7 linked regions of the Homo sapiens genome follow. The protein of the gene in region 7 interacts with the protein of the main gene of each other region in a pairwise test. Each region holds a gene or a part of one and is shown on either strand. Other genes may lie near its edges.

Region 1 (3,500 bases), on a different chromosome or scaffold from region 7:
TTCCAGCCAGAGAAGAGGGTGGCAGAAGCACTGTTTCTTCCTTGTCTCTTCTTAGAGCACAGACACCTTTCTTGGAAGCCTCCAAGAAGATATCATGTGTCATCAGTCAGAGCCCAGTCATGTGCTGTGCCCACCTGTAAACCAGCTATTGGGAAGAGGGCTGGGAGTGTCATGTTGGGTTAATCAGGATTCCCCACCACCCCCCAACCCCCGCCCCAGCCACATGAACAGTAGCTGAGCTCTGTCACCAAGAAAGCTGAAGGGAAGAGCTGTGGCACAAGCACCCAAGAGTGTCTGTCCTGTCGTCATGTCAAGCTACATGCGCCATCTACCTTTGAGAATTTAAACGGTGATTATTATGAAAACATAATGACCCCGACTTGTTGGCTTAACATTTTTGGAATTTTCTAGCTTTAATAAAAGGTCTTTCTTTATGACTGTCCTTTCTCTTCTCTATCCTGACAGTGAGAACATAGAAAGTACTTTTAGATAACAGGATAGGAGCATGGCATAAGTATAACTGAAAAGAGAAAACACACCAGATTCCTGGAATCTCATGGGGTTGTGGGGAAGGTAAAAAGAATCTTAGAGGGAGAAGCCCAGGCCTCGATTTTTTGCAAGTTCTTGAGAACTATGATGTGTGTCCAGTGATAAGTCATTCATCCATTCAGCACTTCTTTTATATTGTCGAAAGGATGGCATATGTTATCCTTGTGATTATTAGCTTTAAATAGAAAATGAAAATTCATCACCTTCCTCCCCTCTGCCTCTATGCAATGTATTAAAGAAATTCCAGAATCCTTTCCATTTCAACATCATCTTAACCTACTTTTTCTGTTCTGCTGTGTTCTCTCCAGGAAAAGGCAGCAAAGTGGAAAAACCCCGACGGCCACATGGATGGGCTCACTACTAATGGCGTCCTGGTGATGCATCCACGAGGGGGCTTCACCGAGGAGTCCCAGCCCGGGGTCTGGCGCGAGATCTCTGTCTGTGGAGATGTGTACACCTTGCGAGAAACCAGGTCGGCCCAGCAACGAGGAAAGCTGGTGAGTGTGCTTCACTCTGCAAGTGTGAAGTACGAAACTACTCAAGCCTAACTCGAAGGCTATCATTTTCCTCCCCTGATGTTCAGAACCTTTGTGCAGGTCCAAGCGCCATGTACTGTAACTCAGGAGAAGCAGAATTCCACAAGCCCCTGAAATCAAGAGGGAAATGGCCTTATCTCCTTCAGGGGTTCAACTTTTCCCATAGTGGGAGTAAATTGTGTTTTGCTCCTTACCACCTGAAGAGCATTATCTTTTATTATATACCTCACCACAAAAATCTACTTAAATTCACTTTAAGGAGAAGAAACTTATTTTTAGTGTAAAACTTTATTGATTTGGAAAACGTTTGAGCAGTCCAAAAACAATTAGTAAAAATTATGCATTAAGGAATTATTTACTAGACTTTCTGGAAGTAAAAAATAAGTCAGCTGGTTTTCCCTTTGAATTCCTATATATTAAGGCAGAATTCTCTATACTGTCCACCAAAATCATAGTTACAACTGTTTACTTGAAATGATTTATATACTGCATTGACCTGGCATGTTAATATTTTCCTATAAATATCACCACTTATCCCCATGCCCTAAAGCAGTTTTTTTAAACCCATTCTTTCTTGGAGAATAATTATAATACCTTAAATATAGAACTTTGGGTTTCTGATCTTGCCATAGCCATGTAGCACAGCCACTGATTTTTAGTAAGCTGTCCATTCCTGTACTTTTCTTAATTTGCTAGGTAGAAGCTAGAACGAGAGAGAACAAATGTCTTTTTCTAGAAGCTAGAAAAGAAGGAGTTCTTCAAAACTCCCACAGAATAAAATGTATACAGAATAGAGGATTTGACCTAGCACTTGTCAGAGAGAAAGATCATCACCAAAAATGTCTAAGATGGAAAAAGAAGTTGGGGGCTGTTTCACTGACCTCATTTGCTGTTCTCTACTGGATGTTTGTGTTTAGGGAATGGTTATTTTTATTTCTATTTTACACCATTTTTCAGCTTCAGGCACAGCGTATGCGTCTTACAGTGCACCATGGCTGAATAAATATGAGAAGCATTTTCTAAAAAAAAAGCAAATTCAATAAATTTTGTATGAATGTTTTCAAGAAATTGTAAACAAAGGAGGAAATGTGAAAGCAGTTTTTCTAAATAATCTTTTGTTTCTGATCACTGGATAGTTTTATACAAAACTGACCTAGATTGGCCAAACTGGTTATTCATCATTATAACAGCAAGAGTAAGAAGTCAGTAAATGGTTGCTGGGTGCAGACTCTGCGTTAACATTTCCGACATGAGCTCACTTCATCTGCACAGCAGCCCTCTTAGGGAAGTAGAGTCATCCCCATTTCATGGATGAGGAAGATGTGGCGTGAAGTTAAAGATTGCCCAGTGTCACAGAGTTAGCAGGTGGCAGCCAGTGGGATTCAAACTCAGGTCTCCCTGATGGAGAGCCTGGACACCTAATACTACTCAGTACCATGTTGTGGGGAGCCAGGGATGGTTTACACCTGAGCATTTGCCTCCCTGGGTGAGTATAAAGCATACGCTGGAGTCCGTGGGGAGCGCCTTTGTCCAGGAGGGCATATCACAGGATGAGTTTCTCGTCCACTCTGGTTATTGTGTAATGACCCTTCTCAGGCTGCTATGTGTGCTGGAGAATTTTACAGTGCGACTGAAAAGAACGAACTCCAAAAATGGCTTGTATTAATGAGTTGTATTAAATATACAGGCTATTTTTGAAGTTAGTCCCTATAAGCGACACTGAGAACTATGTAAAATTGTGCTGTCCTATTTGATAGCATCCGATTAACCTGGCCAGTTACAAAGGCTTCTATCAGCCTGATCTTGGGCTTATGGGACACTGAACGGATACATTCTTCCTGCAATCTCCTCTTGTTAACCTCTGGAGAACAGTTTTTGTCTGTCTTCGAGGAAAGCTTACTGACTCTTTGAACTTCTGTTTCAATTCATGACTCATTGGTCCTGTACATGTTGCTGGTAGCATTTGATATAAATTATGTTTATCTGGAGGTTAGATTTTGGAGACAGTCTCTGGCAGTACTTGTCATTTGCAGTCTAATACAGAAATATGAGAAATAAAGTGAGCTGCTAAAAGTCTAAAATATTTGTTAAAACAATAGTAGTCACATTGTGGAGCTAGTGCTGGTGGAAGATTATGTATTAATATCATACTGAGCATTTGATATGAATCAATATACTAATGTATGTGTAACAAGAAATCACCGTTGTTTTTCATTATTACAGCAAATGATGGAACCTCAGAACTGTGTACTAATCAACAAAATTAATTAAATATGGGGGAAATGTCTTTTCAGGCCTTTAACTCCCTGAATAAATAGGTGAATGGAGTTTGAATTGTGCCCTCCTTTTTTAGCTAGTTAATGATAACATATGGTAACATTTATAATATTACTCCAGGAGGGCCTTGAGTATTTA
Region 2 (2,852 bases), on a different chromosome or scaffold from region 7:
AAACTCCATATTTACAAAAAATACAAAAAATTAGCCGGACATGATGGTGTGTGCCTGTTGTCCCCGCTACTAGAAGGCTCAGAAAGAAGGATCACTTGAGCCTGGGAGGCGGAGGTTGCAGTGAGCCAAGACTGTGCCACTGCACTCCAACCTGGGCAACAGAGACCCCAGCTCAAAAAAATAAAATTAGTGTTAACTTGTACTGTTTAGCCACATTCATTAAGTTTTTAATTTTAACTCTACTATCGCACAACCAGGAATGTACAAGAGATCTGGAGCCTGATTTGCATGGCAGGAAGGAGACCACGTATTTTTGTTTGGGATGGGTTTTAGCCACTATCAGAGACATAGTTTGTTTCTTAGGGGTTCGGTCCCAGTAGTATGATACTTAGTTCATTTAGGAACTTCCTTTTTTAACGGCTAAGAAAACATTTTAGCTACTAAATGATATGCAAAGATAACTTTCCAAATTTAAGCTGTACTCAAAAATCCACAGAATCTGCAAAACTCTCAAGTTTCTATATTTAAATAGAAATGTGTGTTGATATACATACTTTAATCAGTCATTTCTTGCTTTCAATATATTTTATTCTGACGAAGTTACAAAAGTAGATACAAAATACTTTTTTTAGAAGTACAGTTAACTGACTTAGAAAAATAGATAAAGCCCCTAAGGATTTTAAAACACAACATAAATTTTTATGTAAAGAACATTTAAAAATATTTTAGATGGTAACCAAAACTAACTTACACAAACTATTTTTGATGTAGAATAGAATGCTGTTCTATAATAAGAAGTCTGTAGCACACTGGTAATCCATTTGGATCTACAGAATACTTGTTTGGAACAGAATCTGATAATGAGAGAAAACTCAAATGAATGTCAGTGCAGTTGCTTCAAAAAAATTACTGCTACCACATGTACTATCATCCCCCAAGGCCTTTTACAGTCTGAAATATCAAAATTGAAAGCAAAAATAGGATGACCAAAGGACTACTATTTTACCTCTTTTCAGAACTCTACAATAGTAGAAACTAAATTCCCTTATGGATCTCAGGGGGAAATAATGTGCCTGTTGAAGGGGCTCAGTGTTTGGTGTCCAGGCTGGCATTTTTCAGGTGAGGGTTTCATACTGACAGGAGGCAGGCTCCTAAAACAAGGCGGTAGCACCAGCACCATGACTAGGGCTGCTTTAAAACAAATTTCTAGGACTTACGCTCTTTGGGCCTGATTTGTTAATGCTTATGAGGTAATGATATTATGTTTGAGAAGCTCTACTTCTAGTATACCTCAATGCTCAGAGAGAAAGCCAACAATACAATCAGGAAACCACAATATTGACAAAACTTAGTACTACCACCAAGATTGTTCCTCTTGCCTTGGCACTACTAAAAAACTTTACCTTTGTTACTAAAGTCATGGTGAATACAGATTTTGCATTTCTCATGTAAGCAGCTATATAAGCTAGGGTTCTACAAGCCTTAGATGAAAGGAAAAACTTTGCTGGAAGCCCTGTAAAAATCACTTTATTCACAATCTGAAGAATGAAAGACAAATTTGGCTGTCAATACAAAAACTGTAGTACAAGGAAGTTCAACTGTTTAAAAATCTGCACATCACTGTACAAGTGTTTTTTGAAGGCCTGAAAATTAAAGCACCATAGGATTAACTGCATAATTTAGCAAGCACTCTCTACCCCATGACTGTAATCATGTATGAAGAGCAGAGATCAGACACTGAGAGGAGATGGCTTCTGATTAGCAAGGGGGAAGGGAGTGAGTGTTATGGAACAGGCAAACCTTGGGCATGGGGAGATAAAAGTGAGAAGAGTCAAAAAGATTGATTTCTATAGGCCGGGCACGGTGGCTCATGCCTGTAATCCCAACACTTTGGGAGGCTGAGGCGGGCGGATTGCGAGGTAAGGAGATGGAGACCATCCTGGCTAACACGGTGAAACCCCATCTCTACTAAAAATACAAAAAATTAGCCAGGCATGACTAAAAATAGAAAAAATTAGCTGGGCGTGGTGGCGGGCACCTGTAGTTCCAGCTACTCAGGAGAGGCTGGGGCAGGAGAATGGCATGAACCTGGGAGGCAGAGCTTGCAGTGAGCCGAGATCCCACCACTGTACTCCAGCCTGGGTGACAGAGTGAGACTCTGTCTCAAAAAAAAAAAAAAAAAAGATTGATTTCGTCAAACTGTTATCAAAGGTTGGCCCTCTAGCCAACTCAGGAAGGCGCCATCCTCTTCCCATTATCTCCCCTTCCTCCAATTCTCCTCCTCCCCTTGGCTCCCTAGCCTTGGAGGTAAACACTAATATTTCAGTGCACTGTTGGTTAAGCCAGATTGGCTTGGGAACCTGGTAATGTTTTTATTTTTATTTTAAAAAAGGACAGTCTTGAGTCTCAAAATACCAACACATCTCTGATTTATGTCCCATTTATAAGCTGCCTTTACTACTGTCCTGACATGTGATCGTCTTTCATTTGCTTTGGAGCTTAGTGGTGAAGAGAGGGAACATTTCCATAACTGAAAATAAATGGAGAAAAGTGGTAACTCTTTTGTTTGAGAATATTTGAAATACTAGAAATAATGAGGAAAGTACAAGCCTAGCTGAGAAACTAGTTTCATCACTTGTGGACTTAAAAAAGTAAAGCTAACAGGGTTTAAAGTTGAGAGGCAGTTCACATCCTAAGTGATACCTAGAAACCTGCTTTCTTGTTCGCAAATGATCAACATGAACATACAGAATGGCTGACATTTGGACCTTTGGATAAGCTTAAAACATGGATTGTGGAATGTCTAATAGAGGGCTTTTCTCTCTTTTTTTTAATAATGACTGTCCCACACT
Region 3 (3,500 bases), on a different chromosome or scaffold from region 7:
AAGGCAGCTTTCCTAAGACCTACTCTCCTGCTACTATGTCCCCTCCTTGTGAGAACTCCCCAAAAGAAACAGCTCCTTTTCTGGCTAACAGCCTCTGCCTGGTAGACTGAGTGCCCCTTTCTCTTCTCTTATCTCTGAAGACTCAAATACAGTATGACAAAACCAACGTCTTGGCAGATTTTGAGCAACTGAGAGACATCCTGGACTGGGAGGAGAGCAATGAGCTGCAAAACCTGGAGAAGGAGGAGGAAGACATTCTGAAAAGCCTTACGAACTCTGAAACTGAGATGGTGCAGCAGACCCAGTCCCTGAGAGAGCTCATCTCAGATCTGGAGCATCGGCTGCAGGGGTCAGTGATGGAGCTGCTTCAGGTAAAAAGTGGAAAGAAGCCTGAGCACTGAGATTAAAGAAAAGTGAAGGCTATTTCCTTCTCTGCGTTGCTGTGCTTTTTCTAATATTAACAATGTTCTCTGCAGGACCGCTTTTCTGAATCAATTGCTGAAGTTATAAGAATAATTGAATGTAGAAGTAGCAAGAGATAATCCCATTTTTATTAATTTATCCAGAGCAGTAGAAAAATTTGACGTAGTGGAGATGATCAATTAGCTCTAGTCATGTTTGATAGGTTCCTATTCTCTGTATTCTAGTGTTGAGACTTACCAGTGCAGCTTTTCATTGCTCAGCTTAGCCACTGGCAAACAAATACACGTCAAAATACAAGATGCTTTTTATTTTTTTCCTTCATGGAATTAATTGAGACTTTTTCCTTTTTTTTTAATTTTCTGAAAAGAATTAAATAACTGCTATCATTTCTTCTTTATATGCTCAATAGAATTCACTAGTAAAGGCTGGGCGCGGTGGCTCACGCCTGTAATCCCAGCACTTTGGGAGGCCCAGGAGGGCCAGTCATGAGGTCAGGAGGCCCAGGCGGGCCAGTCATGAGGTCAGGCGATTGAGACCATCCTGGCTAACACGGTGAAACCCCGTCTCTACTAAAAATACAAAAAATTCTAGATCCCTGAGGAATCGCCACACTGACTTCCACAATGGTTGAACTAGTTTACAGTCCCACCAACAGTGTAAAAGTGTTCCTATTTCTCCACATCCTCTCCAGCACCTGTTGTTTCCAGACTTTTTAATGATTGCCATTCTAACTGGTGTGAGATGGTATCTCATTGTGGTTTTGATTTGCATTTCTCTGATGGCCAGTGATGATGAGCATTTTTTCATGTGCTTTTTGGCTGCATAAATGTCTTCTTTTGAGAAGTGTCTGTTCATGTCCTTCGCCCACTTTTTGATGGGGTTGTTTGTTTTTTTCTTGTAAATTTGTTTGAGTTCATTGTAGATTCCGGATATTAGCCCTTTGTCAGATGAGTGGGTTGTGAAAATTTTCTCCCATTTTGTAGGTTGCCTGTTCACTTTGATGGTAGTTTCTTTTGCTGTGCAGAAGCTCTTTAGTTTAATTAGATCCCATTTGTCAATTTTGTCTTTTGTTGCCATTGCTTTTGGTGTTTTAGACATGAAGTCCTTGTCCATGCCTATGTCCTGAATGGTACTGCCTAGGTTTTCTTCTAGGGTTTTTGTGGTTTTAGGTCTAACGTTTAAGTCTTTAATCCATCTTGAATTGATTTTTGTATAAGGTGTAAGGAAGGGATCCAGTTTCAGCTTTCTACATATGGCTAGCCAGTTTTCCCAGCACCATTTATTAAATAGGGAATCCTTTCCCCATTGCTTGTTTTTCTCAGGTTTGTCAAAGATCAGATAGTTGTAGATATGCGTCGTTATTTCTGAGGGCTCTGTTCTGTTCCATTGATCTATATCTCTGTTTTGGTACCAGTACCATGCTGTTTTGGTTACTGTAGCCTTGTAGTATAGTTTGAAGTCAGGTAGTGTGATGCCTCCAGCTTTGTTCTTTTGGCTTAGGATTGCCTTGGTGATGCGGGCTCTTTTTTGGTTCCATATGAACTTTAAAGTAGTTTTTTCCAATTCTGTGAAGTCATTGTTAGCTTGATGGGGATGGCATTGAATCTGTAAATTACCTTGGGCAGTATGGCCATTTTCACGATATTGATTCTTCCTACCCATGAGCATGGAATGTTCTTCCATTTGTTTGTATCCTCTTTTATTTCCTTGAGTAGTGGTTTGTAGTTCTCCTTGAAGAAGTCCTTCACGTCCCTTGTAAGTTGGATTCCTAGGTATTTTATTCTCTTTGAAGCAATTGTGAATGGGAGTTCACTCATGATTTGGCTCTCTGTTTGTCTGTTGTTGGTGTATAAGAATGCTTGTGATTTTTGTACATTGATTTTGTATCCTGAGACTTTGCTGAAGTATACCATTTGACCCAGCCATCCCATTACTGGGTATATACCCAAAGGACTATAAATCATGCTGCTATAAAGACACATGCACACGTATGTTTATTGTGGCATTATTCACAATAGCAAAGACTTGGAACCAACCCAAATGTCCAACAATGATAGACTGGATTAAGAAAATGTGGCACGTATACACCATGGAATACTATGCAGCCATAAAAAATGATGAGTTCATGTCCTTTGTAGGGACATGGATGAAATTGGAAATCATCATTCTCAGTAAACTATCGCAAGAACAAAAAATCAAACACCGCATATTCTCACTCATAGGTGGGAATTGAACAATGAGATCACATGGACACAGGAAGGGGAATATCACACTCTGGGGACTATGGTGGGGTGGGGGGAGGGGGGAGGGATAGCACTGGGAGATATACCTAATGCTAGATGACGAGTTAGTGGGTGCAGCGCACCAGCATGGCACATGTATACATATGTAACTAACCTGCACAATGTGCACATGTACTCTAAAACTTAAAGTATAATAAAACAAAAACAAAAACAAAAAAAACACAACAGAAGAAAAAAAAAAAAAAAGAAATGCAAGAAAGCTAGCACCCCCAGGGGCATCCTTCAACCAATGGGGTTGGGAGTTGATGGAGAAATGCCTCAGCTCTCAGTGTTTCGGGCAGAGATTCTGGGGCATTCCCAGGAGGTTTGGTGGGATCATGATCCCATAATGCCCAGAAACAACCCCAACAGCTTACTCATACATTGGCTTCTCCTCCTCCCTGTCTTACCTCCCTGCTCCCTCATTCCTGCTTCCTGGGGTCAGGTAAATCACCTGGACCCAGGTCCTTGTCTCAGGCTCTACGTTCAGTGTTTCTCATGCTGTATTCCTCGGAACCCCAGGGCACCTTAGGATGTGTCTACCCCTCTCTCACCTGCATTTGATTTAATGCTCTGTTGTCATCATCTTGAAATGTTTAATAAATTTTGAACAAGGGGCCGCATATTTTCATTTTGCATTGTACCCCACAAATGAAAAAAAATAATACAAAAAATTAGCCAGGCGTGGTGGCGGGCACCTGTAATCCCAGCTACTTGGGAGGCTGAGGCAGGAGAATAGTGTGAACCCGGGAGGCGGAGCTTGCAGTGAGCCAAGACTGCACCACTGCACTCCAG
Region 4 (3,500 bases), on a different chromosome or scaffold from region 7:
CTCATTAACATTCCAGCCAGCTTCCACTCTGTGCCTGCAGTAACCTGTGTGCCTGCAACTTCCTAAAAACAGAAAACGCTGAAGGTACCATTTGCCCCTAGCCAGTTACTGTTATCCATTTTCACACTGCTATAAAGAATTGCCAGAGATTGGGTAATTTATAAAGGAAAGAAGTTTAATTGACTCACAGTATCACATGGCTGGGGAGGCCTCAGGAAATACAGTCATGGGGGAAGGCGAAGGAGAAGCAAGTGTCTTCTTCACAAGGCAGCAGGAAAGGGAGAGAGCAGGGGCAACTGCCACTTATAAAACCATCAGTTTTCATGAGAACACACTGACTATCATGAGAACAGCATGGGGGAAACTGCCCCCATGATCCAATCACCTCCCACCATGTCCCTCCCCCGACACTGGAGATTATCATTCGAGATGAAATTTGGGTGGGGACACAAAGCCAAACCATATCACTAGTCTTATGAGATTGATTGTCATATCCTCTGAATCTAGAGGATGTAGAAAGGAGGAAACCAGTATTTTTGTTCATTGAGTATCTTCTGTATACTGGTATTTTATTTAATGTTCATAAAACCCAAAATGTGAGATCTAAATCTATTTTCCCCATTTTACAAATGAGGGCATTTAAATTGAAAGATTAAGTACCAGTCCAGAGTCACTTAGCTGGTACTTGCCAGTGTCTAGATTTCAGCCCGAGTATCCAGACACCAAAATCTCTGCCCTCTCCAGTGTTACCCGTAAACAAGTTTTGAAGTTGTAGTATTTTATTTTATTTTTTTGAGATGGAGTCTTGCTCTGTTGCCAGGCTGCAGTGCAGTGCCGCAATCTCGTCTCACTGCAACCTCCGCCTCTCAGGTTCAAGTGATTCTCCTGCCTCAGCCTCCCAAGTAGCTGGGATTACAGGTTCATGTCACCACTCTCGGCTAATTTTTGTATTTTTAGTAGAGATGGGGTTTCACCATGTTGGCCAGAATGGTCTCTATCTCTTGACCTCGTGATCTGCCCACCTTGGCCTCCCAAAGTGCTGGGATTACAGGCAAAGTTGTAGTTTTTGATTAACTATTGGAAAGCACATTTTGGCTCGTAAGTGTACATTTAAAGCACGTTTTTGAACTTGTGTAAGCAAATAAATTAGGAAGTAGGATCAAAGCAGGGTAGGTGCCTATAAATGAAGGCTTATCTAACCAGGTACATTTCTCAGCATTGAGACACTCACTCAGTCTTGGTTTTGCTTGTGTCTTCTTAATATTCAGATTATAATCCATATCCAGTCAAATATGTTGGAAAACCTGATAAAGACTCTAAAAAATGCTGCAGAAGGAAATTTATCAAAATTTGTGAAAAGACATGTGTTCTCGGAGGAAGTGGTGAGTATGCAAGTGCTGCAGAAATCATTTAAAAGTGAAAGGACACTCTTAAAAATGTCCACTAATTTCTCAATTCTAAAGCTTACCTTAAAGAAATTGCCAAATATGGCAGCTTCTCTGTTGTTCCTGTTTTAAGACTTCCATGTATATGTGCAAAGATTTTTTTTTCTTCCAACAGAATATATCCTCTGAAATTCTAGGAAACTTTTCCCTTTTACCTTATTCTTTTCTCCACATTGTATTCATGGGCCCTGGCTCTCTTTTTCTTCTAGATGACGATTTTACACCTTTTTCCTTTTCCCTCAAGCCTTCAATACCTTCTCCTCACTTTTCACTCTCAGTTGATCACTGTATTTCTTGTTTCTTGGAGAAAATAGAAGTAATCAGAAAAGCATGACTGCTACATAGAGAGCCTCTGGCCCCTTGCCCTATATACCCATGATGACTGGATACATCTCTCACACCAGCCTCTTCAGTCATGCACTGGATCCCATCCTCTCTGACCCACTCCACAGCATCAGTCCAGAAGTTGACTCACTCTTTTGGCTATCATCAGTATCCCCTTCCCTGTGGGTCATTCTTGTCAGCAAACAGTAGGATATAGTATCTCTCATCTTAAAAAATAAAAAGAATCTTCTGTACAAATGAAAAGACAGACCATATGTTTAGATAAGAAGACCTAGCCTCATAAAAACTCAGTTTTTTTCAAGTTACTGTGATAATGTAATATGACTCCAATAAAAATATCACTTTGTTTTTTCTGTAAAGGTTAGTTGAAAGAACAAACAAGACTAGCTAGAAAAACCCTGTGAAAGAGGGGCAGTAAGAGTTGCTAGGTCTAGCAGATATCAAAGCATGTTAAAGTTTCTATAATTCAAACTGTGGCTTAGGACATGAATAGGGCAGCTAATGGGACAGAATAGAAAGTCCGGATACAGACCAAATTGCAGATACAAATTTAGTGTAACATAGAGACAAGCATCTCAAATCAATCTAAGTGGATAGACTAGTAAGAAGTAGTACTAGGATAAGTAGAGAGCCAATAGAAAAAGATACAGTTGTATATATTCTTATACCACAAACCAGGATACATTTCAAATGGATGAGAATTTAAATTTTTAAATTGAAATACACAAGTACTAGATATAAACATTAGTAGATTCTTTAATATCCTGGGAGTGGAAAAACTTAGCTTTCAGTCAAAATCCAAATCAGTAAAAGAAGTGATAAATTTGACTAAATAAAAATGTTAAAACCTGTTTTTTCATGTGGCAAAAAGTCTACAAGCAAAGTCAAGAGGTAAGTAATCAATTTTTAATCATACTGACAAAAGGCTAACTAGCCCTAATATTTCAAGAGCTCTTTTTGAGGCCAGGTGCGGTGGCTCATGCCTATAATCCCAGCACTTTGGGAGGCTGAGGCAGGCGGATCATGAGGTCAGGAGATCGAGACCATCCTGGCCAAAATGTAACCCCGTATCTACTAAAAATATAAAAATTAGCTGGGCGTGGTGGTGCATGCCTGTAGTCCCAGGTACTCAGGAGGCCGAGGCACGAGAATCGTTTGAACTAGGGAGTCGAGATTGCGCCACTGCGCTCCAGCCTGGCGACAGAATGAGACTCCATCTGAAAAAAAAAAAAAAAAAAAAAAAAAAGCTCTTTTTGAAAATTCTGAGAAAAGAACCAACAACCCTGAAGAAAAATGGGTAAGAGATGTGGACAGAATTTACTAAAAATGAATTGTGAATGGCCTTTAAACTTTCGAAAAGATTCTCTTGCCCATATCAAGAAAATGCTAAATAAAACTACCCTATGATATTTCTCTTGAATAGAAATCTGCAAGTTTGCCAGCCAACTTGGTTGGTGAGGCTCTGAGGAAATGGGCGCTATCATCTGAGGAAATGCTGCTACAGCGAATACAGATTGGTACACTACAAATACTTTCACCCTTTGACTCAATCCTCCCACTTCTTGGAGTATATTCTAAAAATATACTGGCAAATATAAAGAAGTTGTATGTACAAGGCTATTTGTTGCAATCCAATTTCTAATAACAGCAGACTGGAAAAAAGCCCAAATTTCCATCACTAGACAACTAGTTGTACAAATTAGGGTCTGT
Region 5 (3,500 bases), on a different chromosome or scaffold from region 7:
TCCACCTGCCTCAGCCTCCCAAAGTGGAAGGATTACAGGCGTGAGCCACCGCGCCAGGCCAGAAATCCAAGCTGCTTACCCGGTCTGACAAGCTATGCACCCGCCACACCCAGGGACCTTGAGTGAGTGTCCCGGACCACTGGCTGTACCGCCAGTGGTACCTCCCAGAAACACACCAAGCTTTCTCCCCCCGCAGACCCTTTCCAAATGCTGTCCCAAGGCCCATTCCTCCCCATGACTTCAGGCCCATTTTATTTTGATGGCTGACTGTGGGATCCCCTTTGCCTATAAGGGCACCTCCACAGAGCAAAGGGACTTTCCTGTGTATGACATTTCAGATGGAAGGAAGCCAGCTCAAAAATGCCCAGTGCTTCTTGGAAAACGTAGGCCCAGTATGGCAATCAGTTAAGGAACATGTTTGAGAAACACAGTTTCGAAAGGTTTAGGGAGACAGAAGGAAACTCCAGTTCAGGAACTAGTGGATCCAAAAGCAGTTTCACCAGGAAATCTGACCCTTTTCTCTTGAAATACAAGAGTCCCTTCTGAATTTAAACTGAAATCAAATATGCTCTTGATGTGGTGGGTTTTTTTTTTAAATTAGGCCAGCACATTATATTAAGGAAGTTGGGATAAAAAGTAAAACAAAGCTCAAGATAGTGGTTACCCTAGTGGGGAAGTGACAGAGAGAAGGCACTGGAGGCTTCTGGGGTGGTAGTTTTGTTGTTTCGTGGTCTGGATATAAGTTACAGAGCTGTAACGTAGCATCTGTAGGTGAAATTTCAGTAAAGTGTTCATCAGAAAGAATAGCGTCAGCCACAGAGTCAGGTGAAAGAAGATCAAGGAATAAGGGCTGTGTTTTGGGGGGTGATGGAAGTCGTACTTCATCAGCTGTGTGGCTGCACGAGCAGTTTCACCTCCCTGGGAATTAATGTCCTCATCTGTAAAATGAAGAGTTGTTCTAATCTAAAGATATGCAGAGATCGCACCCAGCTATAGAGATGTCTGATTCTGACACATAGACGCCTCTCTTAGGACAACTTGAGAAAAATGACATGTTTCCACCTTCTCGGATGTTAATTTGGGGCCACTCTTAGTCTGCAGACTGTCAACACAGATATAGAAAGGAGTCCGTGAAGTGCCTCACAAAGGCTGTGTTCCAAGCCTGTGAATTTGCCATGGGAAAACAGTTCAAAACCCGTGGCTCAGAGTTGCCCCGTCTACCAACAGCCGCTTCCATTTGGAATGTATTTTCTGGGCGGGTTTAGCCTCAGGGTTAATGGCTAGATGACATGAGCAGGGAGGAGACGCCTGCCTTTTCTGTGGATCAGAAAATGTGTAACTGATTGTTAACTGGTCTTCAAGTTCTTCTAGCTCCTTCCTTCTCAGAGTAGAGGAAGAAGAAAGTATTTAGAAAAACCAAAAGGTACATCTGAAGGTGACTTTAGAAAAGATGGGGTCCAACCTTCTCCCTATACAGAGGAGGAAGGAGAAACACAAAGGGTGTTGGGAGGTCCCCAATCACCCAGTGCAACATTGGCTGCCCCAGAAGCCAAATGAGATGGCACTCCTGAGTTGTAAGCCACAGACCACATCTCTTGCTAAGAGACTCCAAGCACAGAGAAGGCAAGAAATTAAAAATTATTATTATTTTTTTGAGACGGAGTTTTCCTCTTGTCACCCAAGCTGGAGTGCAGTGGCGTGATCTCGGCTCACTGCAACTTCCACTTCCCGGGTTCAAGCGATTCTCCTGCCTCAGCCTTCTGAGTAGTTGGGACTACAGATGCATACCACCACACATGGCTAATTTTTGTGTTTTTAGTAGAGACAGGGTTTCACTATGTTGGCCAGGCTGGTCTCAAACTCCTGACCTCAGGTGATCCACCCGCCTTGGCCTCCCAAATTGCTGGGATTACAGGTGTGAGCCACCGCACCCAGCCAATAAATTAAAACAATGTTTAAGTAAATAGGCTGGGCACAGTAGCTCACGCCTGTAATCCCAGCACTTTGGGAGGCTGAGGTGGGCAGATCACCTGAGGTCAGGAGTTCGAGACCAGCCTGGCCAACATGGCGAAACCCTGTCACTACTAAAAAATACAAAAAAAATTTAGCCAGGCGTGGTGGTGGGAGCCTGTGTTCCCAGCTACTTGGGAGGCTGAGGCAGGAGAATCTCTTGAACCCAGGAGGCAGAGGTTGCAGTGAGCCGAGATCACGCCACTGCACTCCAGCCTGGGTGACAGAGCGAGATTCTGCCTCCAAAAAAAAAAAAAAAAATTTTTTTTTTTAAGTAAATAAATAGGAAGGGAGGGAAGGAAGGGAGCAAACTTGTAGGTAGGGCAGACATGGAGGGAACTTAAGGAAGGAAAACAAGGCAGGAAATTCCCCTGGGGGGTTTTACTGTGGCCACCTCAAGAACTCTGCTCAGTGGTTAAAGGGACCCCCCCTGAATTTCCTTGCGGTTTCTGTTGTTTGCCACAGCCTGCACAAGCAAGGCCTCAAATGGTTGATGCACTTAACATCAAGGACAAATCTCATTGCTAATGCCCTGATCATTTTTCAAAGTTAAGTTTCAATAGTAAACTCATCTTTCCTTTCACACGGATGTCAGTCTAGCAGTTGATAGTGGACTCCATGTTTTTGAAACCTTGTGTTGTGTTTGGTCAATTTCATTCATGCAACAGGTATTTACTAAGTACCTTGTAGGAGCCTGTCATTGTATTGAGTGGCATGAGCAGGGAGGAGGTGCCAGCCTTGCCAGCCTTTTCTGTGGATCAGAAAACTTAACTGATTGTGAAGTGGTCTTCGAGGGTCCTCTGGTCAACCAACAGAGGACAGCGCATCTGTTTTCCTTTCAGGGAGAGGAAGGAATTGCTATTGATTTTTTGTTTTTTCTTTTCATGGCTTTGGAAGAAATTCAAGTTAACTTCAGTTAATGTCACTTGTTGTTCTTAGAAGAAACCTCAGCAAAGCTCTGCTCCGAGTCAGCTGCTCAGACAGCAGCTGAGCATGCCAGGCCTAGATCGGGGCCAGTTGTTCCAGAAAAGAGAGTTAGTGTCCACCTCATTGACTGCTTCAGAAGGCGCCACCAGCTTCCTCCTGGTGTTTGTAGCGAGTGCCTGTGCTGGCAGCTGTTCTATGTAACAACTGTCTGGTTCTATGTCTTGTAGCCCAGGGAGTTAGAAAATGTAAAGTATTCAAAATCTTCTAAGGAATCAACACTTTCCTGTTTGAAGACAACCTTGGAAGCTGGTGTGGAGAAGGCCTGAATGGTGAGTAGCACATTCCTGGGGCCCCCACAGCACATGCCTCAGGGAGCTTGGCCTTTCCCTGCACACAGACCTTGCCAAGACCCTCTGCCAGAGCTGTGGCCGGGTGGGATGTGTCATGGGAGCTGAAAGCAAAGCATCTGATGGCAGGAAATGCCTGCAGTGACTGAGGCCTGTGCACATCTGCTCTACATCTCAACACCTCATGAAGGCCAGGGCTTTGAGGGAAATAGCGCA
Region 6 (3,500 bases), on a different chromosome or scaffold from region 7:
AGGAAATCAAGGATGAATTAGACCTGTTTCCTGATTTTGGGGAGCTTGCAGTCCAATAGGGGAAGACAGATAAGTAAGCAGTGTGTGCTTTATAGTATTAGTGTTCTAACAGAAATCTGCTCAGGGTACTGTTGGGTGTGTAGCAAAGGAAGCTCCCCCAAAACCAAAGCTATTAATTCTCCCTAGGAAAATAAATCAGAAAAGGTATCCTAGAGGACGATTCATTTGTTCCAACTCTTACAACAACATGAACAACTGCTTGCTGGACAGACTGAGGAAGAGAAGAGGAGAAAATGAGTTGCCAGGCAGAGGGGAACTGGAGACTGACCATTTCTAAGGTAACTTTAGAACTCTATGAATGTTTTTTTTATCTGAATTGACCCAAGCAATGTGAGTGCAGAAAAGCATGAAGATATAAGTATGAGCAGGATTGCCTGGTGTGTTAGGGAGAGTCTAGGTGTGAGGATTAGATATGCAACAGAACTAGAGCTTACACCTGTGGAGAAGGTGGGATCCACTGAAAGATTTTAAACTGAAAAACAGGAGAAAAGAGCAGAAAGCTCTTTCCTAGTAACAGTAAAGTTAAGGGTTTTCTTTATAATTGTCAGTGATTTTCTTTTCCTTCCCATTATCTTAAAAATCTTTTGTAATGTGGGCATATTTGTTTTATTAATGTTTTCGAAAAATAAAAAGACAAAATTGTGTTATCTACTGGCTTTCCATGATATATTTGGCAACACTTTGGTGTCACTTTGCATTACTCTTTAATAGTAAGAACAATCATAATGTTAACTAACTAGAGGTTCAGCATCCTAAATCTGAAAATCTGAAATCCTAAATACCCCAGAATTCAAAACTTTTTGAGGACCGACATGATGTGCAAAGGAAATGCTCACTGGAGTATTTCAGATTTCAAATTTTCAAATTTGGGATGCTCAAATGGTAAGTATATGTAATGCAAATATTCAAAAATTGGAAAAATTTCCAATTCCTAAGCATTTCAGATAAGAAATACTCGACCTGTATTAACTATTGAGTTATTTTCTTGGACCAGGCACAGTTCCGAATTCTTTACACACATTAATTAATTTCCTCCTCACAGGTTACATGAGGTAACAACAGCCCCATTTTACTGATGAAGAAATTGAGACATTGAGAAGTGGAAAAATTTGTCCAATGATAGATACAAAGGTATCAAGTGGCAGAACCAGGATGTGAAGCCAAGCAAGCTAACTCAGAGCCCCACATTTTCCTTTTATCAAATTATTCTGCAATTCAAAATTTTCACCAGTTCATTCTGGTTTGCCCTTACTCATTACATTTTGGGATCATTTTGCTATTCTTAGGGCAGACTCTAGTTTAGGTGGATGAGATCAGAATATGTCTCAGTTTAAAGGAATCCAAAGGATTAACCCCAGATTTCTGCATATCACACTCACTCACTCCCTTAAATTTTTTGCTCAAATGTCTCCTTCCTAGAACACAACCTCACACAAGTAGATCCTCAATACATATTTGTAGAATGAATGAATGAACTGAACATTGAATCTTTCCTAAAGATTATATTTTACTTAGTATGCTAAGATGACTAGCCAGGAAAGTATTATTTTATTTATTTTCAAATACAAGAAATAGAAGAAATGCAATTTATATTATAATTCTATATTTAAAAACTCAATTATGCCAGAGTATTTTATATTCCAAGTATTCTAGATAATCAAAATGTAATTATTTATCTTCAGATATTATTGGTGATAAGTAGGTCATGGATAGATTATTGCTAAGCTAGCTCTAAGAGGTCAAAGCAAGTTCACTGAAATAATTCATTTTAGCATTAGATGAGAAAGGAGGCATTTTTAAGGACCAGAAATAACACAACACTGGGTGGATGTGGTGGCTCTTGCCTGTAATTCCAGCATTTTGGGAGGCTGAGGTGGGAGGATTGCTTGAGCCCAGGAGTTTGAGGCCAACCTGAGCAACATAGTGAGACCCCGTCTCTACAGAAAATTTAAAAAATTAGCCATCCATGGTAGGGCATGCCGGTGGTCCCAGCTACTTGAGGGGCTGAGGTGGGAGGATCACTTGAGCCCAGGAGGTTGAGGCTGCAGTGAGCCAGGATTGTGCCGTTGCACTCTAGCCTGGGTGACAGAGCAAGATCCTGTCTCAAAAAGAAAAAAAGAAAAGAAAAGAAATAGCACAACACTGAGGTATGCTTCTAAGGACCATGGGTCCAGTGGGTAAAGGTGGCATCTGAGAAACAGGCATCTGAGGAGAGGAGAAAATCCTTGGTATAAATTGTTCACTGGGTTTGATGTGAACACTATTGGGACAGAAAGTAGCTAACTAGCACTGTCAGAAACAAAAAACAAAAGTGAACATTTTAAGTTGTAGTCATTCGATCCACCTCTCTCAGGAAGGCAAGGTCCATAAATGAAGAAAGATCTAAAAGGCTTGCTCAACATCAGGAAGTGAAGTTAGGAACCAAAAGAAAACCTAAGGTTATATTTTCAGAATTGAAACCATCTAAATAATTATTTTATTCTTTTATAAGATATGCATTCTTTGGTCTTGAGGGGCCTTAACTATCAATTTCACTTTAAATAATAGTTTTTATAATTTAAGTAAGTTCCACTTTGTAGCCTTCATATAGAAGTATGGATTTAAATAAACTTCTCAAATTCTTTAAACACTTAAATATGCATTGTATATTTTAATCCTTGTAGTTTGAATAATTAGGGTAATTAAAAGTATTAAAGAGAGGATTATATGAAATCCATTCTTACCTGTAGGGCAAGTAAGATGCTGCTCAATGTATAGTTTGTATTCCACTTCTCAGGGTTGTCCAAAAAGTCTATACAGGGCTGACCAGTGTGTGGGTCTACTGTATTAAAATAATACATTAATATTTGCATTTATAATAAATTATTATTTAAAACTTACAAACATCAAAATGATAAGCCAGAAAAATTATCTGCATTTACTCTTCCTTTTTCCTAGTTCTTCTCTCTGTACTGAGAAGCACTATACCCATCCCTGGTTCCCACCCATTACCATGTTGTTTTAGCTGAATACATAGGTGCCCCTACAGTTTTTCCTATCCTCTCCTTTAGCAAGATGTGGCCTTGTGACTAAGTTTTTGTTGTGGGACATAAGGATAAGTGTGCAATTTCTGAGTCTTTTTTTAAAGGAAGCTGGCTTTCCTTCTTTTCTTCCCCCTTCCCCCAGACTGGAAATGGTGACAAACAGTAAATGCCTTAGTCCCAGAAATGGAATCTTCACATTGAGGATGGGCACAACCTCCCTCCAGCGTTGTCCTGTTATGTTAAGTTGGAAAGATGTACAGGAGCTTGGCATATGCCCTAACACAGTTAAGTAATTTAGTGTTTGAAAAAATAATAGAGTTAAATAAGAAAAATAAAACTGTAGAATGACTAGAAGAAACTTAAAATGACTATTTGATTTTCTTTTGGGAAAGGATCATCTAAGATGAAAGACAACTG
Region 7 (2,248 bases):
ATCGACTGTACTAAGCACAGCCTAAAATATTCACATCAAAGGGGAAAAAGGAAAAAGACTCAGATCACACTTCCATTTTGAGCCAACAGATAACTGCTTTACTTGAGGGAAAAGGCATGACTGGTTTAGATGGGTAGAGATCTAAATGCTGAATGTCACTCAGTGATGGCACCTCTTTCAAAAGCACAGACAGCTGGAGGATTCCTGGCCTCATTTACCTTCAGCCTGCCCACAATATTATATTTCTCTCTCCACTGCAAACTGTGTGCCAAAGGCCTGAGCCACTGTTATTGCCTCAGCAAGTCCCCCACTGACAGCAAAGACAGATCTCCTGCTGCTGGGTGCCCCCACAGATAAAGTGGCTCTAATAACTAGTGGAGTCATTTGTGATGCACTTTCAATTGGATCAATTTCCTCTCAATTACCCAATCTTTGAAAATCGGATGCAATTTCATAATCAGAATATGGGGCTTTCTCCAGATGAAAAGAACAAGACAAACTAGTTCAACATCATTTTAATGACCTCTTTACCTATCCTTTGGCAGCTATTATGATACAATCCAAAGAAACACTACTACCATAAAAACAATTTTGAGCAGCTCAGTTTAGCAAATTTTGTTTACATCAAAGTAAGGCAGTTGCTCTTTGGCTTGCCATCAGCCCTGCACCTAGAGTAAGATATATTACTTAGTAAACACCAAACCCTCAGGAACCTCATCACAGGTCCTCTCACCCACTTCTGATCTTAAAAACAAGACTAACTTCCTTTTTGTGAACTGTAATTATAAACATAAAACATACAGCAGAAGCTCAGAATAGGGTATTGGTGACTCTAAACCTTGGGGGATGATTCTGTACACATGTATTTGGGAGAAAGATTTGGATTATTATCTTTACATAATAGTGCTTTTGGCTGAATTTTGACCTGGGTAGATATCTACACTCTGAAAGAACACAGTGAGATAAGGAAGCAAAATGGCATAGCGCAGGTTATCCCTCTTATCATCTCCAAAATTCCGTATTTAATTAAAAGACATGAACACCAGAGATGAAGAAACAGTTCTCAATTATTTAATGCTTGATAGAGAAATGGAAAGAAATCCTGAAACCAAATAGTATGTACTGACTTGAGGAAAACACAGAATAACAAACCAATAGTTTTGCTGTTTGTTTTAGTAATGAACATGAAAATGTGTCCACCTCTCCACTTTGTTGGCCCTGGCCTATGTTGTACAATTCCTTAGACACAGGCCAGAAGAGAGAGGTAGTATGAAAAATGATGAGCCCTAGAGACTATCCAAATTTGCTGACTATATCAGCATTTGTTTGCTTATTCCCAGCTTCCTATGCTTTGGCATAATTCCAACCCATATATGCTTCTTTAAAAGGCAAGCAATTTCCAGGCTGAAGTCATCAATACCAACCAACTAGGGTCAATCCATTCTGTCACATCTGCAATTCTCAATCCAAGATGGCACAGATCCTCCAGGCGAGAGGTACTGCTTCCTAAAGGGCTTGTGTATCCCCTTTGGTAGCACTAAATGAATGACTTTCATACTGGTAAAGACGATCAGACTGAGACATAATGTTACGGGAATATGATGTCTTAAATGTCACTGAAAGGTGGAGCAGATCCCACTGAAGCATGCACAGTGAATCCAATCAGAGTTCAAGAGAAAGTGTCACAGATGAAGCACATTATAGTAGGAAGGAAACAATGGATCAAGGGCATCAAAGCCAAATGGGAAAAAATCAAGGATTTAATACAAGGGCAAATTTCAAACATGGCACAAAGGGCTAAAGTGGCTCTCTCTACTAAAGCCTTGGAAGTGCCTAATTGCTAATCAAACTTCAGCTAACACCATCGTGTGTCCTATTTGGGCAGTGCATCTTTTAAAGCTCTAAATTTAGGTGGGAAGCGGGGAGGGGGACATAACAAATAAAAACATTAAAAGATGGAGCTTCTGAAGTTCTAGAACTACCCAGCTGGAATCAGGACATAGGCTGAGTCTATTCTGCATGTGCCACTAACAACCAAGAACTAAGGGAAGGGAAGTTGGCTTGGGAGCAGAAGAAACTGATAATTTCTCATCCCCTATGGGGTGGAATATCTTCTCAGATGGTAGCTGTAGATCTTGATGCAATGATCCCAACAGTCCAAGACCAGCAGCTGCCCCTTAGGAGTTAGGGCTATGCCCACCGGACAGGTAAGTCCCTCTCGAATAAGGACACTATAGCCCCCACCCTT

What was found.
Region 1: the proteins of TRIM32 (region 7) and PELI2 interact in binary tests that used the Homo sapiens proteins (3 or more experiments, as listed by UniProt).
Region 2: the proteins of TRIM32 (region 7) and MOB1A interact in binary tests that used the Homo sapiens proteins (3 or more experiments, as listed by UniProt).
Region 3: the proteins of TRIM32 (region 7) and TRIM5 interact in a two-hybrid assay, tested with the Homo sapiens proteins (one large-scale study listed by BioGRID and IntAct).
Region 4: the proteins of TRIM32 (region 7) and PTCD2 interact in binary tests that used the Homo sapiens proteins (3 or more experiments, as listed by UniProt).
Region 5: the proteins of TRIM32 (region 7) and CASS4 interact in a two-hybrid assay, tested with the Homo sapiens proteins (one large-scale study listed by IntAct).
Region 6: the proteins of TRIM32 (region 7) and UBE2U interact in binary tests that used the Homo sapiens proteins (3 or more experiments, as listed by UniProt).

Annotation. Positions count from the first base shown.
Region 1 is NC_000014.9:56,289,411-56,292,910, forward strand, and holds part of PELI2 (E3 ubiquitin-protein ligase pellino homolog 2), read left to right. Parts: intron 1-857; coding exon 858-1,046; intron 1,047-3,308; coding exon of another isoform or gene 3,309-3,356; exon of another isoform or gene 3,357-3,500. UniProt on the Homo sapiens protein: E3 ubiquitin ligase catalyzing the covalent attachment of ubiquitin moieties onto substrate proteins. Involved in the TLR and IL-1 signaling pathways via interaction with the complex containing IRAK kinases and TRAF6.
Region 2 is NC_000002.12:74,152,028-74,154,879, forward strand, and holds the end of MOB1A (MOB kinase activator 1A), read right to left. Parts: 3' UTR 501-2,852; downstream 1-500. UniProt on the Homo sapiens protein: Activator of LATS1/2 in the Hippo signaling pathway which plays a pivotal role in organ size control and tumor suppression by restricting proliferation and promoting apoptosis.
Region 3 is NC_000011.10:5,675,075-5,678,574, reverse strand, and holds part of TRIM5 (tripartite motif-containing protein 5), read left to right. Parts: intron 1-140; coding exon 141-371; intron 372-3,500.
Region 4 is NC_000005.10:72,351,373-72,354,872, forward strand, and holds part of PTCD2 (pentatricopeptide repeat-containing protein 2, mitochondrial), read left to right. Parts: intron 1-1,268; coding exon 1,269-1,382; intron 1,383-3,500. UniProt on the Homo sapiens protein: Involved in mitochondrial RNA maturation and mitochondrial respiratory chain function.
Region 5 is NC_000020.11:56,439,760-56,443,259, reverse strand, and holds part of CASS4 (cas scaffolding protein family member 4), read right to left. Parts: intron 1-3,500. UniProt on the Homo sapiens protein: Docking protein that plays a role in tyrosine kinase-based signaling related to cell adhesion and cell spreading. Regulates PTK2/FAK1 activity, focal adhesion integrity, and cell spreading.
Region 6 is NC_000001.11:64,210,123-64,213,622, reverse strand, and holds part of UBE2U (ubiquitin-conjugating enzyme E2 U), read right to left. Parts: intron 2,882-3,500; coding exon 2,784-2,881; intron 1-2,783. UniProt on the Homo sapiens protein: Catalyzes the covalent attachment of ubiquitin to other proteins.
Region 7 is NC_000009.12:116,699,552-116,701,799, reverse strand, and holds the end of TRIM32 (E3 ubiquitin-protein ligase TRIM32), read right to left. Parts: coding exon 2,096-2,248; 3' UTR 501-2,095; downstream 1-500. UniProt on the Homo sapiens protein: E3 ubiquitin ligase that plays a role in various biological processes including neural stem cell differentiation, innate immunity, inflammatory resonse and autophagy.